Linked DNA regions of Homo sapiens. The protein of the gene in region 2 binds, or shares a complex with, the protein of the main gene of each other region. Each region holds a gene or a part of one and is shown on either strand. Other genes may lie near its edges. The genes, in order: NUP214 and NUP153.

Region 1 (8,895 bases), on a different chromosome or scaffold from region 2:
GCATTAAAGATAAAGAAGCACTCTAATAAAACTGCAGTGATGAGCTCTGGGCCGTCCTAGCAAACACTGTTGTCAAATCCAGCATCGTTCTGCTAGTGTTGTCTGGCAACAGCAGTGTCTGTCTTCACACTTCCTGGGTCTACCCAAGGGCTATCTGCACTGTGGTTAGTAGACACTGGGTAGGTGTGGCTACCAATGTCACTGCCACATACAGAATATAAAGGCTGTCTTCTCAAGTGACCGGCCCCCTCCTCTCTGGAGTAGGACACATGGCACCCAAGAGCCACATGGAGATGAGAGCCAAGGCCGGCTAAGGCGCAGCACTGTCCTGCCTCACGCTGGCTACTATTGTACTGTACTGAAAAGCGCTATGGCTGCTTCTGAAACTCAACTGCTGCTGGCATGAGTGGCTTCCTCTGCCTCCACTCAATCGCAGAGTGCGTCCTTGGATGGTCCTGATACACAATGGCTAAAAGAACAAGGAGAGGAGATAACCAAGTTTCAGCCTCAAAAAGATGACCCACCAGCATTCAACCTCTTCCCTATGTGGAGGGCGCTAGGTCCAAGTGAGACCACGGCACATTCGATGCTGTTTATCAACACCCGACGCTGGTGACTTCTGATGCCATCCTTGAAGACACAGTGTTCTGGCTGATGGAGGCTCTGCTGGCTTCTCAGAGCCACAGAAACGGGGCAATCTTCTTGGCTGTGATCTGAAAAAACCCACATACGTTCTGTACGGAAACAGACTGTTTAATAGTGGGAGGGAAAACCCAACATGAAATATAAAACAAGTAATCATGCGCCTTGTGAGTTTTGGTTTCTGTTGTTTCTTTCTGGGTGTATGTGTTTTGATGGCAACGTCGGTCTGAACAGCCTGCTCCAGCATTTCTCGGGGAAGAAGCTGAGGATGCGGTTGGTCCCAGGGATCGAAAGGCCTGCTGACACGCCCTCAGCTTCGCCAGCCACCAAAACCCTGGACAGACCTGCAAGGAAGCACAGGACAGTGGTGGAGTCAGCTGCTCTGTCACAGAGCAGTCACAGGCTCTGCTGCTCTGCCTGTGTGCAAAGGTCAGGACTCAGATTTTTTATTATTATTTTTTTGATACAGAGTCTCACTCTATTGCCCAGGCTGGAGTGCAGTGGCGTGATCTCAGCTCACTGCAACCTCTGTCTCTCGGGCTCAAGTGCTTCTTTTGCCTCAGCCTCAGTGGCTGGGATTACAGGCATGCACCACCACGCCTGGCTAATTCTTGTGTGTTTATCTATATATGTATATATATATATTTTTAGTAGAGATGGGGTTTCACCATGTTGGCCAGGCTGGTCTCGAACTCCTGACCTCAAATATCTGCCCACCTTGGCCTGCCAAAGTGCTGGGATTACAGGTGTGAGCCACCGTGCTTGGCCAGTATATATATTTTTTTCTTTTGATATAGGGTCTGGCTGTCACCCAGGCTAGACGGTAGTGGTACCATCTTGGCTCACTGCAGCCTCAACCTCCCAGGCTCAAGTGATCCTCCCGCCTCAGCTTCTGGAGTAGCTGGGACCACAGGCATAAGCCAGCATGCACGGCTAATTTTTTTAATTTTTAGTAGAGATGGGGTCTCACTCTGTTGCCCAGGCTGGTCTTGACTCCTGGGCTCAAGCAATCCTCCCACCTCAGCCTCCCAAAGTGCTGGGATTATAGGCGTGAACCACCCACCTGGCTAAGACTGAATTTTAACGCCATGAAATTTTACACAGAAGCACAGAGGGTGGATCAACACATGAGACCTGGTGATGGCCCAGAGCCCAGGGGTTAGCATGCAGCTTCTGAGAAACCTCCAGGGAAGTCAGGAGCAGCATCTCCTCAGCGCTGCCCTCAGGCCCAGCTCACTGGCAGGCGTGCTCTTTTCTCTTTGAACCACGCCTCTTAAGAAGGCGAGGCCTGGCACCTCCTGCCATATTGCTACAGAGAAGAGCAAGTCCACAAAACCCAAACCCTGCTGCTGAACCCCCACACTTCCAGGACAAACTCTAAAAACAGGAAAAAACGAAAAGAAAATGCACAAATCCAGCAAGATCCACACACTTCCAACCTTATTTAATGCTTTTAATTAAGGTGAGACTCAAAAAGGGGGATACTTACGAGTTATTTGACCCAAAGCTGAACCCTGAAAAGCAGAATAAGAGTGAAGTTAAAGCACGCATCCACTCGAAAGACAAAGGTGGTCCCCATGCTAAGTGTCTGCCCTCCTCTGTGCTTCTTGTGGGAAGCCCTCCGTGCCTCCACCACCTACAGGAAGGCAGGAAAGGTACACACAGAAGCCCCTTTATTCTGAGTTTGTCCTCTGGAGCTACTCAGATCCCCCAGAAGGCAGAAAAAATCCTTTACTTTTTATGAGTTATCTTCTTGGTATTTTAGGGTTCTTCCTCCCTCCTCGGCCCCAGCTGTAGGCAGAGGGTCTCTGGCTTGGCCTCTCAGCTGTACTGGACCACATAGATCCATTCATTAGGAAAACCTTTTTTTTTTTTTTTTTTTTTTGCTGTTGTTGTTTTTCCATCCATTTGCTTCCTCTTCTTTTTGGGGGCCAGAGAAGCAAGATGGCTGGATTCTAGGCCTGGTTCTACTGCTAACTGCTAACACTTAGTTCCTTGGAGTTTCTGTTTCTTCACGGGTACAATTGTAATGATACCTAAATTCTGTGCCTTGTCAGTTTACTGCAAGAACAAAATGGAAGACACATATTCTGCCATCTGAAGAAGCAGAGTGTTAAACAAATGCAAGATGTTTTGTGAAGTTTCTATGCCTTTTTTTTTTTTTTTGAGTCTGCTGGCTTAGATTTTTTAAACCAAGGCCTAGTAAGACCATTATTATTTTGGGCTTCTCAAATCCTGAGAGGAAATCAAGACAGTAATTTCTTTGGTAAGAAATGACACAGTGTTCTAAGTCTAACTAAAACCTAAAAAAAAATATATATGCCAGGTGCTGTAATCCCAGCACTCTGGGAGGCCGAGGTGGGTGGATCATGAGGTCAGGAGATGGAGACCATCCTGGCTAACACAGTGAAACCCCATCTCTACTAAAAACACAAAAAATTAGCCGGGCCTGGTGGCGGGCGCCTGTAGACCCAGCTACTCAAAGGCTGAGGCAGGAGAATGGCGTGAACCCGGGAGGCGGAGTTTATAGTGAGCCGAGATTGTGCCACTGCACTCCATCCTGGGCAACAGAGCGAGACTCCGTCTCAAAAATATATATATATATATATGTTTCAACCACTTTCAGTATGTTACATATTTATTTATTTTGAGACAGGGTCTCATTCTGTCACCCAGGCTGGAGTGCAGTGGTGCAATCACAGCTCACTGCAGCGCTCAAGTGATCCTCCTGCTTCAGCCTCCCGAGTAGCTGGGACCACAGGTGTGTGCCACCATGTCTGGCGAATTTTAACATTTTTTGTAGAGAATGGAGTCTTGCCATGTTGCCCAGGCTAGTCTCAAACTCCTGGGCTCAAGTGATCCTCCTGCCTTGGTCTCCCAAAGTGCTGGGATTACAGGCGTGAACCACGTGCCCAGTCAGCTTTTAAAATACTAAACAGACTGGTCAGGTAAAACATACTCATTTCTTTGGGGGAGAAGGCAAGAGGGACCCATTTTGCTTGTGAGGGGAGAACTTGTGGCAGCTTACCTCCTGTGCCTGATCCAAAACCAGAGAATCCGCTACTCTGGGTCCCAAAACCAGAAGTCTGTTGGGACAGTGATCCGAAAGTGGGGGCATTCTGACTCGCGAGCGTGCCGAAGGATGTGGTGTTGCTGCTGCTCCCAAACCTGCGCTCCAGTGAGAAACAGACTGAGGTCAGTGGGGCCTCTCACCACTTGCCCATCTGCAAGCCTCAGCCCCCTGCTGTAAGTCCCAATACACACGACACTCATGATCCAGGGTGACAGGCTGGGCCTAACTAGCAGCCTTTCAGAGAGAATGAGCTATCGCCCAGGGCCAACTTTTATCTCTGCTCTAGGAAGAAAAATGGCAGGACTACAGTATGAAATCCAACCTGGCCAGTGTTTTAGTTTCCATCCCCCATTGGAACACCAGGGCATTTGGGAACTATGCAGTACACAGTTCCTGCTCTACCTCCAACAATCCTTAAGCTTTATTCTATCATTTTAGCATTTCTCACTTACCGACCATTCCCCCACATCCTGCTCCCATTTATTTATCTTCAGCTCCTCTTGGGATCTTGATTCTATTTACTTTTTCCAAGTCATTTCATTCAGGATTTTGTATTTGCTTCCTGAATCAATAATTACTACCCAAACCAATGTAAAAGTGGCCACTATTTTCCTTCCCCTGCTCGCCCCACCTGGAGACAATCCCCTGTGCCCCCTCACTCAGTTCTCCCTCCAGATATGGTCCAGCACACAAGGTGGCACTGTGTGACCTATCAGAGCCCCTTGAATTGTTTGCAGAGGAACTCGGCTGGGTTGGGGAGAGCTTCTGGGGTCTGGAGGTGACTAGGTGAGGGAAACGGATCAGTGGTTTCTGGGAGAAGGGGCAGCACCTGGGGGCAAGAATCAACCCCAAAGCAAGAAAAAGTATCTAAAACTCTGCCTTCCCACCATTCTATTCACTTTTAATGGTGAGGTCAAGGCTCTTTCCATACAAAGGTGGCCAAGGGATCTGCTCTCATTGGACTTTCTCCCAGGAGCGGCCTGCTCCCTTCCTCCTCCTGCCTTGGGCCTCATCAGCAACAGCCTGCCCTTCAGGGTCGGAGACAGGCTCATGGCCAGGGACCTGGAAGAAGGTAATGGGCTCTTATGGAGATTTAATAACTGACCTGGCATTAACCTTTTTTAGGACTGACTAACCAGCCAATCGGGATTTGTGTGAGAGCCGCCCCAAGGCAGAATATACTTTTCTACTAGTAAAGAAAACAGCTGGTTTCAAATAAATAAATCAATTCACAAGATACCCAGCCAACCCAAACCTTCTACCAACTCTGTGGTACTGTGTGCTGGTTCATCACTGCAGAGAACAGCATCCATTAAGACCTCTGAGAATACCAGCCTAAGTGGGTCTCTAACTGTCCTTTCAAAGCTTTCCTTAACTTTAATTCTTGGGGTTTCCTGAGGGCAAACCTAAGGCATCAGTCTCCCGTGAAACAGGAGAAGCAGCACGCCAACCCTCTCACTCCTGCTGCTGCGCTCCAGCATCTTGCACGGAGGGGAAGGGTGTGAGTAAGAACATACTATAGTTTATTTTCAAGATAAAGATGCTGTCATCTTGCCAAGACTCAGATCCAAGTATCTCAACAATTCCCCTAGACAAAATCATCTCCCCTCCCCCAAACCTTCAGCTCATGCTGAGCCCAGTACTGCGGCAAGAGGCGTTTTAGAACTCCTTTCAGGCATCGACACCTCCTTTGAACAAGAGACTTGGTAGTCATCCCGTGTACATTTTTTAAATTGGGATGTTGTGGTGTGGTGAAGGTTTTTTTCCCTTGGGGTTTTGGCAACCACACTGAAATTCTGCCCTTAAAAGCGACTCCCTAAAAATGGCCTTTTCCAGTGCAGACGCACACGAGGCAATGAGAGCAGCTTCGAAATCCCTGATCATCCAGGATCTTCCCACGGGAGGACCTGTGCAACTGAATACTCACTCTGGGGGGCTGCAGGGGAGCAGGGGACACAGGGAGTTGTTTGTTCAAGGACAACGGGTCTAACACAGAATAATCCCAAGAGGAAAGAATCTGGTGAAAACCATTCATTGAGGACTTCCTAACAGAAGCTCCACACCGGGGCACCTCTTGGCTACAAAGCAGTAGTTAAGGCAGGGCTGGTGCCTTCCTTTAGCCCCAGCAGGAGAACAGGGGCTCTGATGACCAGCATTTCTCATACCAGGGAACAGCAACACAGCTGAGGTCCACCATGAATTCAACAAAGCCTGGCTTGAACGAAATGAGTCTTACCCTGGAGAGGTACAGGAATCCTTGAGGGAGTTGTTCACAAATTTCAAGGGAGGGGCCTTCACCTCATGGTCAAATTTCTTTTCAGAGCAAGAGTACAGGCCCCTAGTGCTTTTTGGCTGGCGTGTGGGTTCCCAAGGGCCCTCCCCAGGGGGCTTACCCGAATCCTCCTGCGCTGGCAGCTGCAGTGCCCTCTCCGAACACTTTGCCTCCCGTCGAGCCCAGAGGGCTTGTAAAGGCTGGGGCTGAACCGAATGCTGGCACCCCTCCAAACCCAGGGGATCCCCCAAAAGTAGGAGGGCTGCCAAACACTGGAGCAGCACCGAAGCCACCTGAGCAAAACAGAGGCAAACAAACAGAAATAGGGAGAAAGAAAGGAGGAGACAGGAAGAGAAGACATTGAGCAATGAGAAACCAAATCAAAATAGGAAGAAAAAAGGGAAAAGAGGATGTTAGCAATTCAAATGCAAGAACTAGAGTAAAGGGCAACACCCCCCCTCCCCCCCGCCCTTCTATCAAGAAAATAGTAATGAAAACAACAAAACAAAAGCCCTCAAACCAAACCACTCCCCTCCATTCCTAGCAGAGGGCTCTGGGGTCCACTCAGGAGAGCTCCTGCAGACCCTGTGAAGTCACTGTGAAGCCGTGTGAGCAGACCTCCAAGAGCCCACTCGGTGCACCTTCCACCCCTCCCAGGTCCTCTGAGCTGTTTGGAGTGAAAAACCATTCTCAAAAACTCCAATCCCTACCTAGCTGACAAAAGATGACAGACTATATTACTTATCAGTACACAGGCAAGACATCCAGCTTCATAGAAACCCAAATTATAAAATCAGAGGCTCAAAACCTCCTCTCAGGGAGAATCCCTGAATTGGGTCATAGCAGAGACAGAGACGTGTATGCTGGCGCCCAGCCAGGTGCTTTTTATTTATTTACAGCCTGATGGCTCCTACGTCTCTCATCAGAGTCTCCCTTTCTCTCGCTCAGTGGAGGTTTGTTTTTTTTTTTTTAAATGCTTTTTTCCTGCAGTCTGGAATTACTTCCCAATGAAAAAACACACCAAATTTCTTCTTTGGAGGCAGGCTGCTGCATAAATCTAATAAAATAATAAGTCAACAGTGAGGACAGCCCTAGAGTTCAGATGCCTTCTGCAACGTTGCCAACACTGCTGCCCAGTGGGCTCAGGCTGCCAGAGGGCAGCACCACACAGGTGGCCACACAGACAAGGGTCAGGTCACGCACAGGGCACCCTACTCTGATTGCTGGTGATGCCTGTCAGGCAGGAAGACAAAACATCCTCTCCTGAGCTATTCCTGATGCGGGTTCCCAAACTTCCAAGATACTGCTGAAATCATTCTAAAGTATTAGAATAGACACTCAGTGAGTGTCTTCTTGAATGAATGGAATAGAATGGCATAAGAAATGTGCTCTAACTGGGAGCACCCTCTAAAGGGAGTACTTCTTAAGGTGAGTGTTGGCCTATGAACTGCGTGCTAGCGGGAGTAATGGTGGCCTAGCGACAAGCCTTTTCTCCCCTTTCAGAAAGTCAATCTGTTGTTAGAGGGATGAAATCCAGACTTCTTATTGTTTATGTAATCACAACACAAGCTTCTGCCATCTGAATCAGGAAAGATCAAATCCTGGGTATGAAAAGTTGTCAGCTGAATCCCTCAGTTAACTGTTATTTTGTGATTCACTCATGTGCCTATTTGCCATTAACAGTGGTAGGCTGCACAACTGAGAAGATACTTTTTTGCTAAGGCTCGTGTTTGGGTTAACATTCCGCATGTTAAAACACTGAGTGAAATTCCAAGCCATGATAATGGAGACTGTTGGGTTATAAATATAACAGACTGGAAAAAAAAAAGTGCTAAAAAACCCTTACAGTTGAATTATTTAAGACTGATCACAGATCTAGTTACACTTTCTTCCTAGACATGCAGGGCGCTATCTAGTACCTTGTATCAATATTGCTTAGACTTCTTGGTGGAAGGTGAGTGAAAAATGGGAAGTCATGATGATACAGAAAATAAACTGGACAGGGGAGGGGTGGCGGTTAAATATACACAGAGAGAAAAAGCCCCCAAACAACACACCTGGGTCACAGCCAAATTAAACAGGAAGAAAACAGTCACTCTGGCTTAAAGAGGCAACTCTCTCCTGATGGCAGGAGGGGTTTGATTTTATCAGTTGCCGTATTTTCATAAATTTCTTCTCCAGAAGAAACAAATTTTCTAATAATCAATGATGATAAACTTTCTGATTTATTGAGGGCCCACTATATGCCAGGTGCTTCACAGCAGTTTTCTTAAATCTTCCCAATAAGCCTGGGATCCTTACATCACAGGGGAGGAAACTGAGACTTAGAGAATATGCCACTTGTCCCAACTTCAGCCAGCTGATGGGTGCTAGAGCTGGGACTGGAACAAGGTCTGTGCGACTCAAACGCCCACCTCTCATCTTCCCCATCATTCATCCCCTGCCTGCCTCCCTCCAAATCTAACACTTTAGCGAGACAGCAGGGTGTAGACCACTGACCATGGTGGGCAGCAAGGCCATCTTCAGTCCATCCCACCTTCCTCCTGTCCTCTCCCCGGATGACCTCCAGCAGGATAATTTTATAATGCAATTTTACTGAAGGGAGGATAGATACTTTTGGAATTTTTCAAAGACCCATCCAAATCATCAACTTAAAATCTCTCTTAAAGCAAAAAGTGCCCTGATGCCTGGACAGGAAGGCAGTTCCTCTATTCACAGCAGCCCTTCCTTCTGCTCGGGACTTCCAGTCCCCTCTTTCAATAGAAAAAGCTCTCCCAGAACCAATACGAGTTCTGCAGCAGAGAGATGAAGTCCTGAAACATGAGGGGGAGTGGCCTTTCCCCTGCCCTCACTTTGATGTTTATGGTTACTAGTTCACTCATCTTATGTATCTGAAAGATAGTTGTTC
Region 2 (8,895 bases):
AAGGGACCCTGCCTACCAAACAGATCTGGAGAGGTACCTCCTTGACTGGCAGTTTTTTAAAAGAGTTTTGAAGTACTAAAGACTTCAGCCACTAACAAATAAGAGTAAAAAGAGTCTGACAAGAGGAAAAACGGTTTTCTTATGGAAGAAAAGGTTCCTTTGACCTTACTACCAAGGAAGGCCCAATGTAACCCACCTATGTTTTGAGGAGTTCTTGAGAGAAGAGTTCTTCAGGTCTTTACAGGAAATAAGCAGGCATGAGGGAAATAAGCTTTCTGTATGGACCTGAAAAGTGCTTTAAGATTTAAAAACAAGGCCAGGCACGGTGGCTCACGCCTGTAATCCCAGTACTTTGAGAGGCCGAGGCGGGTGGATCACAAGGTCAGGAGATCGAGACCATCCTGGCTAACACGGTGAAACCCCGTCTCTATTAAAAATATAAAAAATTAGCTGGGTGTGGTGGTGGATGCCTGTAGTCCCAGCTCCTCGGGAGGCTGAGGCAGGAGAATGGCGTGAACCCGGCAGGCGGAGCTTGCAGTGAGCCAAGATGGCGCCACTGCACTCCAACCTGGGCCACAGAGCAAGACTCCATCTCAAAAAAATAAAACAAATAAATAAAATCTTAAAAAACAGCCAGGTGCAGTAGCTTACGTCTGTAATCCCAGCACATTGGGAGGCCGAGGTGGGCAGATCACTTGAGGTCAGGAGTTTGAGACCAGCCTGACCAACATGGTGAAATACCATTTCTACTAAAACTACAAAAATTAGCTGGCAGGTGGTGTCCGCCTGTAATCCCAGCTACCCAGGAGGCTGAGGCAGGAGAATCACTTGAACCTGGGAGACGGAGGTTGCAGTGAGCCCAGATCACACCACTGCACTCCAGCCTGGGCTACAGAGCAAGACTCCGTCTCAAAAAAAAAAAAATTAATCTTAAAAAATACTCTGTGGCCCTAAAGCAAAGTCCACACTTCATAATCATAAATAATAAATTTAAGTTCAAGGATTAAAGGAGTGAATTTTAGAATGTGAACTGGCTAAATCCACTGGGTATTCTCTCTCCAAGAAAGAAGGGTTCTTCATTTGGCAAAACATGTCAAAAATGCCACTGAGATTTAGACTAATTAAAAATTCAATCTGGGGATTAGAATTCAATACTACATACATATCAGGAACATTCAACGTATAAGGTATTGTGAATACATTAGCTTTTCAAATTATATTTAACCTGAGTTGAAGGATTAATGAGCTGGGCGCAGTGGCTCATGCCTGTAATCCCAGCACTTTGGGAGGCTGAGGCAGACAGGTCACCTGAGGTCAGGAGTTCAAGACAAGCCTGGCCAACATGGCGAAACCCTGTCTCCATTAAAAAATGCAAAAATTAGCCAGGCGTGGTGGCAGGCACCTGTAATCCCAGCTACTTGAGAGGCTGAGGGAGGGAGAATTGCTTGAACCCAGGAGGCAGAGGTTGCAGTGAGCCGAGATCACATCACTGCACTCCAGCCTGGGCGACTGAGCGAGACTCCATCTCAAAAAAAAGGATTAATGAAAGGCAGCTGGGGTGGGGGCAGGCTACTCTATAACACTAACTCAGAAACAGCTGGGGTGGGGGAAGGCTATTCTATAACACTAACTCAGAAACAGCTGGGGTGGGGGAAGGCTATTCTATAACACTAACTCAGAACTCACTTGTAATTAACGACATTCTTTTCTTATAAACCTTTTCACAGGAATAACCAGAGGCATCTTTTCAGTATGGCCAACTCCTTGTCATTCCTATATATCCTTCCTTCCTTCTATACAAAGCTCTTTTCTTCCTACTAGTTTTCTTGACTTCAGTTCTGTTCAACTCCCTTTTCTTCACATTATCCTTAGCAGTGTTCAGATTATAAAATCTCCTTTCTCAAATAGTTTCACTGGATCTTTAACTATAAATATCAAATGCAGTCCATCATCAGTTTTAAGGTTCTGGAATCTTATTCTCCCAGGGAGCAGGTTTTTAATTCTTCAGCTAGAAAAGTACTTTAAATGGCTAGAGGACTTGGACTGATTGGATAGGGTAAACTTCGCTGCTGAATGGCATAGGCTTATAAAATACAACCAATAATGTCTTAGATTTGGATGTTAAATTCAGATTATTGAAACTAGATTCAGGTCCAAGCACCGTGGCTCACGCCTGTAATCTCAGTGCTTTGGAGGCCAAGGCAGGGGTTCTGCTTCAGTCCAGGAGTTGGAGACCAGCCTGGGGAATATGGCGAAACCCTGTCTCTACCGAAAAAATACAAAAATTAGCTGGGAGCAGCCGGGCGTGGTGGCTCACGCCTGTAACCCCAGCACTTTGGGAGGCCGAGGTGGGCGGATCACAAGGTCAGGAGATTGAGACCATCCCGGCTAACATGGTGAAACCCCATCTCTACTAAGAATACAAAAAATTAGCGGGGCGTGGTGGTGGGCACCTGTAGTCCCAGCTACTTGGGAGGCTGAGGCAGGAGAATGGCGTGAACCCGGGAGGCAGAGCTTGCAGTGAGCCGAGATCGCGCCACTACACTCCAGCTTGGGCGACAGAGCAAGACTCTGTCTCAAAAAAAAAAAAAAAAAAAGAGCTGGGAGCCTGAAGCAGGAGAATCACTTGAATCCCAGAGCGGGGCGGAGGTTGCAGTGAGCCAAGATCGTGCCATTGCACTCCAGCCTGGGCAACAGAGTGACACTGTCTTAAAAAAAAAAAAAGAAAACTCAATAAAAGCTCACAGTAGTTAAACTCACTAAAAGTTACCTACAAGATACTATCACACTTTTTCTCAGGTAACATGTTTGAAAATTGGGAGTAAGAGTTTGTTTCTTAAATCACACTAAGAAAAAGATATGCAAAATCAAGCAAACTGAAATATCTATAGATAGAAAAGGCATCCTATCATCCTGTTTCTGACAGTAAATGGTATGTGTCAGCAAGACTTGAAACCAAACTTCCCAACACAGAAGAATCTTTTAAAAATATATTACAACCATGAAGATAAGCTAAATAGCTACAAATAATTTTTTTTTTTTTTAAATACAAGCTAGCTGGGCGTGGTGGCTCAAGCCTGTAATCCCAACACTTTGGGAATCTGAGGCAGGCAGATCACAAGGTCAGGACTTCAAGACCAGCCTGGCCAACATGGTGAAACCCCGTCCCTACTAAAGATATAAAAACTTAGCCAGGAATAATGGTGCGTGCTACTCCAGAGGCTGAGGCAGGAGAATTGCTTGAACCTGGCAGGCGGAGGTTGCAGTGAGCCGAAATCGCACCATTGCACTTCAGCCTGGGTGACAGGGCGAGACTCGTCTCAAAAAAAAAAAAAAAAGAAAATACAAGATAATTACAATCTTTGCAATACTCTGTGCCTAATGAAAATGGTTTTGGCTGGGCAAGGTGGCTCACGCCTGTAATCCCAGCACTTTGGGAAGCCGAGGAGGGCAGATCACTTGAGGTCAGAAGTTTGAGACCACCACACCAACATGGTGAAACCCCGTGTCTACTAAAAATACAAAAATAGCCAGGCGTGGTGGCACACACCTGTAACCCCAGTTACTCAGGAGGCTGAAGCAGGAGAATCCCTTGAGCCTGGGAGGCAGAGACTGCAGTGAGCCAAGATCACAGCATGGCACTCCAGCCTGGGTGACAGAGCTAGATTCTGTCTCAAAAAAAAAGAAAAGTAAACAGTTTTAATTAGTGACATCAGACTACAATTTTTATTTTACTTCAAACTAAGATATCTGCCTTGTCAGGGACTTCCCAGAAAATGGATACAGCAAGTGGACTTTTTTGTCACTTATTAGAAAAATTAAGTAAATTAATATAATACCACACAAAACCTCTCATCACAAACAAAACACCTACTTTGCATTAAACAATTTAATACATGCAAGTATTGAATTTAGTCACCTAAAGGAAACAAAACTTCTGATAAGAAGCAGGAAAATTCAGAGACAATATGAAGACCCTAAATCAGGAGACTAATTTGAGTAATAATAAAACTGTGGTCTCCCACAAAAAAAAAGATCCTAAATCAAACAGTTCTATTTAATTTCAAATTTCAATTGCATATATATAATAAGGACTCAATTTTTAATAACTCCTTACCTATATACATATGCCAGGTCCTGTTCTAAAATCTTCACTTGTCCCATTTAACCTCCACAACAATTTTCACTTTACAGATGAGTAAATTAACTTGTCCAAGTCCAGGCAGAACAGGGATCCAAACTCAGGCTGACTCCATTACACTACAATGTTTTCCTAACAACTATCCTATCAACTATCCAATCCTATCAATGTTTCCATTTCTATTCCCACTGATTATATTAAGCATCTAGGATAAAGCAAATAAGGATAAAATAAAAGTTAAAAACTTGGTGACTTCTGGAATGATTTAAATATTCGACCTCTAAATATCCCTCCTTTTCAAATCTGAGAACACTCCAGCTATCAGATACCAGGCAGGACATACTTATTTGGGACAGAGTATCACAAAGAAGCTACCAAAACAAATAAAAACAATACTATCATATAAACCATGGTATAGCAAACAATGACCTGTGGGCTGGGCCAAATTCAGACCTTGGTCTTTTTTCATACAAGCTAAGAATGGTTTTTACATTTGCTAAAGGACTTTTAAAAACAAAACAAAGGACAATTTACCACAGCAAAGCCTAAAAATTCACTATCTGTGTCCCTTTCAGAAAAAGTTTACTGACCCCTGATCTAAGCTACTGATAAAGAGGTTTCCTTCCCCTTTTTAAAAATAGCTAAGCAGTGGCTCATGCCTGTAATCCCAGCACTTCGCGGGAGGCCAAGGCAGGTGGATGGATCACTTGAGGTCGGGAGTTCGAGACCAGCCTGATCAACATGGAGAAACCCCATCTCTACTAAAAATACAAAATTAGCTGGGAGTGGTGGCGCATGCCTGTAATTCCAGCTACTTGGGAGGCTGAAGCAGGAGAGTTGCTTGAACCCAGGAGGTGGAGGTTGCAGTGAGCCAAGATGGTGCCGTTGCACTCCAGCCTGGGCAACAAGAGCGAAACTCTGTCTAAAAAAAAAAAAAAAGCTAAATGCGCCAGGTGCAGTGGCTCACGCTTATAATCCCAGCACTTTGAGAGGCCGAGGAGGCCAGACCACGCAGTGAGGAGTTCGAGACCAGCCTGGCCAACTTGGTGAAACCCAGTCTCTATTAAAAATACAAAAATTAGGCCGAGTGTGGTAGCTCACACCCATAATCCCAGCACTTTGGGAGGTCAAGGCAGGTGGATCAGGAAGTCAGGAGTTCAAGAACAGCTTGGCCAAGATGGTGAAACCCTGTCTCTACTAAAAATACAAAAATTAGCTGGGCGTGGTGGCACGTGCCTGTAGTCCCAGCTACTCGGGAGGCTGAGGCAGAGAACTGCTTGAACCCAGGAGGCGGAGGTTGCAGTGAGCCGAGGTCGCACCATTGCACTCCAGCCTGGGTGACAGAACAAGACTCCATCTCAAAAAAAAAAAAAAAATACAAAAATTAGCTAGGCGTGGTGGCCTGCGCCTGTAATCCCAGCTACTCAAGAGCTGAGGCAGGAGAGCTGCTTGAACTCGGGAGGCAGAAGTTGCAGTGAGCCAAGATTGTGCCACTGCACTCCAGCCTGGGCAACAGAGCAAGACTCTGTCTCGGGGGGGGGGGGAAAAAAGCTAAATGCAGGAACTGACTTGTAAGACAAACTATATCTAGGAGGATTAAAGGCGGAGTCCCTTAGCTCTAAACCAGAAGATAAATGTCTGAAGCATACTACCCACACCACCCCACCCCACCCCCATCCCGGGACAAAAAGGGCAAAAATAAGTGGTTTCCTCTCACCAGGAGGTGGCAGTAGGTTCTGGTTTGCCCATGGACTCAAGTTTTTTGTAGTGGTTACTAAGAAAAGCAAGCAGCCTGACCTCTCCAAAGAGCTGACTTTCTGTGCCTGACAATCTGAACAAAAAGGAAATGGAAAAGGAAGACAGGAACTAACCACATTCTCTTCAGTTACCTATTCACTCTCAACTAGAAAAATGACACCATTTCTGGCCGGGCGAGGTAGCTCATGCCTGTAATACCAGCACTTTGGGAGGCCGAGGCGGGTGGATCACAAGGTCAGGAGATCGAGAACATCCTGGCTAACACGGTGAAACCCCGTCTCTGCTAAAAATACAAAAAATTAGCCGGACGTGGTGGCAAGGCACCTGTAGTCCCAGCTACTCGGGAGGCTGAGGCAGAAGAATGGCGTGAACCCGGGAGGCAGAGCTTGCAGTGAGCAGAGATCGTGCCACTGCACTCCAGCCTGGGTGACAGAGCGAGACTCTGTCTCAAAAACAAAACAAAAAAAATCAGCCGTTTGTGGTGGCGCATGCCTGTAATGCCAGCTACTCGGGAGGCTGAGGCAGGAGAATAGCTTGAACCCAGGAGGCAGAGGTTGCACTGAGCCGAGATTGCACCATTGCACTCCAGCCTGGGCAACAGATGCAAAACTCCGTCTCAAAAAAAGAAAGGAGAAAAGAAAAATGACACCATTTCCTAAATGCATCTAGGCAAAAAGGTAAAGGGGTAGGGGAGAAGGCAAGTAAGAATGATCAGCTTGCATTATTCAGGGCTGTTCTTCATATTTGCTTCTACAATTCTTAAGAGTTATTACCCTTATAACTCTTCAGTTATTTGAGCAAGACAATGAATTTGTCTGCACAACTTCATGCAAGATGACATTTTAAAGATCAGAATTTGGGCCGGGCGCGGTGGCTCACGCCTGTAATACCAGCACTTTTGGGAGGCTGTGGCGGGTGGATCACCTGAGGTCAGGAGTTTGAGACCAGCCTGACCAACATGGCGAAATCCCGTCTCTAAAAATACAAAAATTAGCCGGGCGTGGTGGCGCATGCCTGTAATCCCAACTACTTGGGAGGCTGAGGCAAGAGAATGGAATGAACCCAGGAGGCAAAGGTTGCAGTGAGCCAAGATCGAGCCACTGCACTCCAGCCTGGGCCACAGAACGAGACTCCATCTCAAAAAAAAAAAAAAAAATTAAAAAAAAAATAAGTTAAAGAAGGAAAGTAGTAAACTTACAGCATTTCCCAGGAGAGCTAAACCCAGAAGTCAAAACAGGAAATTACAAGTCAAATGAACACATGCAGAAGTCATAGGTACTGGGTGACTGTACTAGCCAAGTTGCCCTGACAGGCACTGGCAAACATCCATTAACTAACAGCGCCAGACCTCTCATTGTTTCTTACTCCAACTTTCTGCTATACTACCAAAAGCTTAATTTTTGCCCAGAAACCCTTGGACACTTAATCAAATAACATTAGTATAAAACATGCCATGTCATGAAGCTTGCTTCATGATGACTCAGCAGCTTCTGCAAAACATCCAGTTGACAGCCTAGGATAATAAACAGCAAGTGGGTAGACCCTATGTCCACCAAAGCCTCAATAAGGACTAAAGAAAGTCCTTATTTTTAAGATTAAAAAAAAAAAAAAGGAGAGTATTCTTTTGAATATACCTGAATACTTTCCTTGGGTAGTGGTAGTTTCTGCCAATATTAAATAGCACCTACAGTGTTGATCAAGAAACCCCTAAATACCTTTACTTCCCAATTCAAAAGCTAAAATATGTTTTCTTTTTTAATTAAATAGGACAAGAAGCAAAAGTATTTTAGATAAGGGGCAATGATAAATTATCAAGATTTAAAACAAAACTACACAGCCTGAAGTCGTATCAACTCTAAGACACCTTGGATCATAGGTGTTATGCTGTTAAGACATCATCTCCCCAAAATTAGATTTTTATTTTATCTAAGTACATTTAAGCTGTGATCAGGGGCCGGGCGCGGTGGCTCACGCCTGTAATCCCAGCACTTCGGGAGGCCGAAGCGGGGAGATCACGAGGTCAGGAGATCGAGATCGTCCTGGCTAACATGGTGAAACCCCGTCTCTACTAAAAATACAAAAAATTAGCTGGGCGTGGTGGCGGGCGCCTGTAGTTCCAGCTACTCTGGAGGCTGAGGCAGGAGAATGGCATTAACCCGGGAGGCGGAGCTTGCAGTGAGCCAAGATCGCGCCACTGCACTCCAGCCTGGGTGACAGAGCGAGACTCCGTCTCAAAAAAAAAAAAAAAAGCTGTGATAACTTCAGACATCTGGAAAATATTAATTCCCTTCTAACCTCTATTCAGACCATCCAATGACCTATATTTAAAACAAGTCATTTTTCTACATGTCATACAAGAAAATCTAAGCACTCAAAGGCATTCATAGGAGAAAAGAAAGCATGCATGTGTAACTTCCATTCTACAGACGGATTAGGTTAAATGGCCAGGCTTGTGACCTGAATTCTAATCTTAAATCTGCTCGCAAATACCCCTTTTCTTCACAAATTTGAAAACTAAGCACTTTATGTACATATCTGGGGGAAAACTGGTGGGAGTAGTAACAGTGCCAAACCTAACCATCAGTAGAGAACGACTGAAAATACCTGAACCACAATTTTTACTACTCAAACATTTCCCTCAAAATAAAAAACATTTAAGAAAACTAGAAGACAAAAAAAAAAAAATTCCTCAAATCTTTACTTTTTTTTTTTTTCTTCGAGACAAGAGTCTCGCTCTGTCGCCCAGGCTGGAGTGCAGGGGCAAGATCTCTGCTCACGGCAAGCTCCGCCTCCCGGGTTCAAGCCATTCTCCTGCCTCAGCCTCCCAAGTAGCTGGGACTACAGGCGCCTGCCACCACGCCCGGCTAATTTTTTGTATTTGTTAGTAGGGACGGGGTTTCACCGTCTCTGGATGGTCTGGATCTCCTGACCTCGGTGATCCACCCGCCTCGGCCTCCCAAAGTGCTGGGATTACAGGCGTGAGCCAACGCGCCCGA

Evidence for each region.
Region 1: NUP153 (region 2) and NUP214 share a complex: the UniProt entries of both Homo sapiens proteins name them as parts of the nuclear pore complex.

Annotation. Positions count from the first base shown.
Region 1 is NC_000009.12:131,225,545-131,234,439, reverse strand, and holds part of NUP214 (nuclear pore complex protein Nup214), read right to left. Parts: intron 6,281-8,895; coding exon 6,109-6,280; intron 3,811-6,108; coding exon 3,671-3,810; intron 2,157-3,670; coding exon 2,132-2,156; intron 987-2,131; coding exon 953-986; 3' UTR 1-952. UniProt on the Homo sapiens protein: Part of the nuclear pore complex. Has a critical role in nucleocytoplasmic transport.
Region 2 is NC_000006.12:17,696,160-17,705,054, forward strand, and holds part of NUP153 (nuclear pore complex protein Nup153), read right to left. Parts: intron 1-8,895. UniProt on the Homo sapiens protein: Component of the nuclear pore complex (NPC), a complex required for the trafficking across the nuclear envelope. Functions as a scaffolding element in the nuclear phase of the NPC essential for normal nucleocytoplasmic transport of proteins and mRNAs.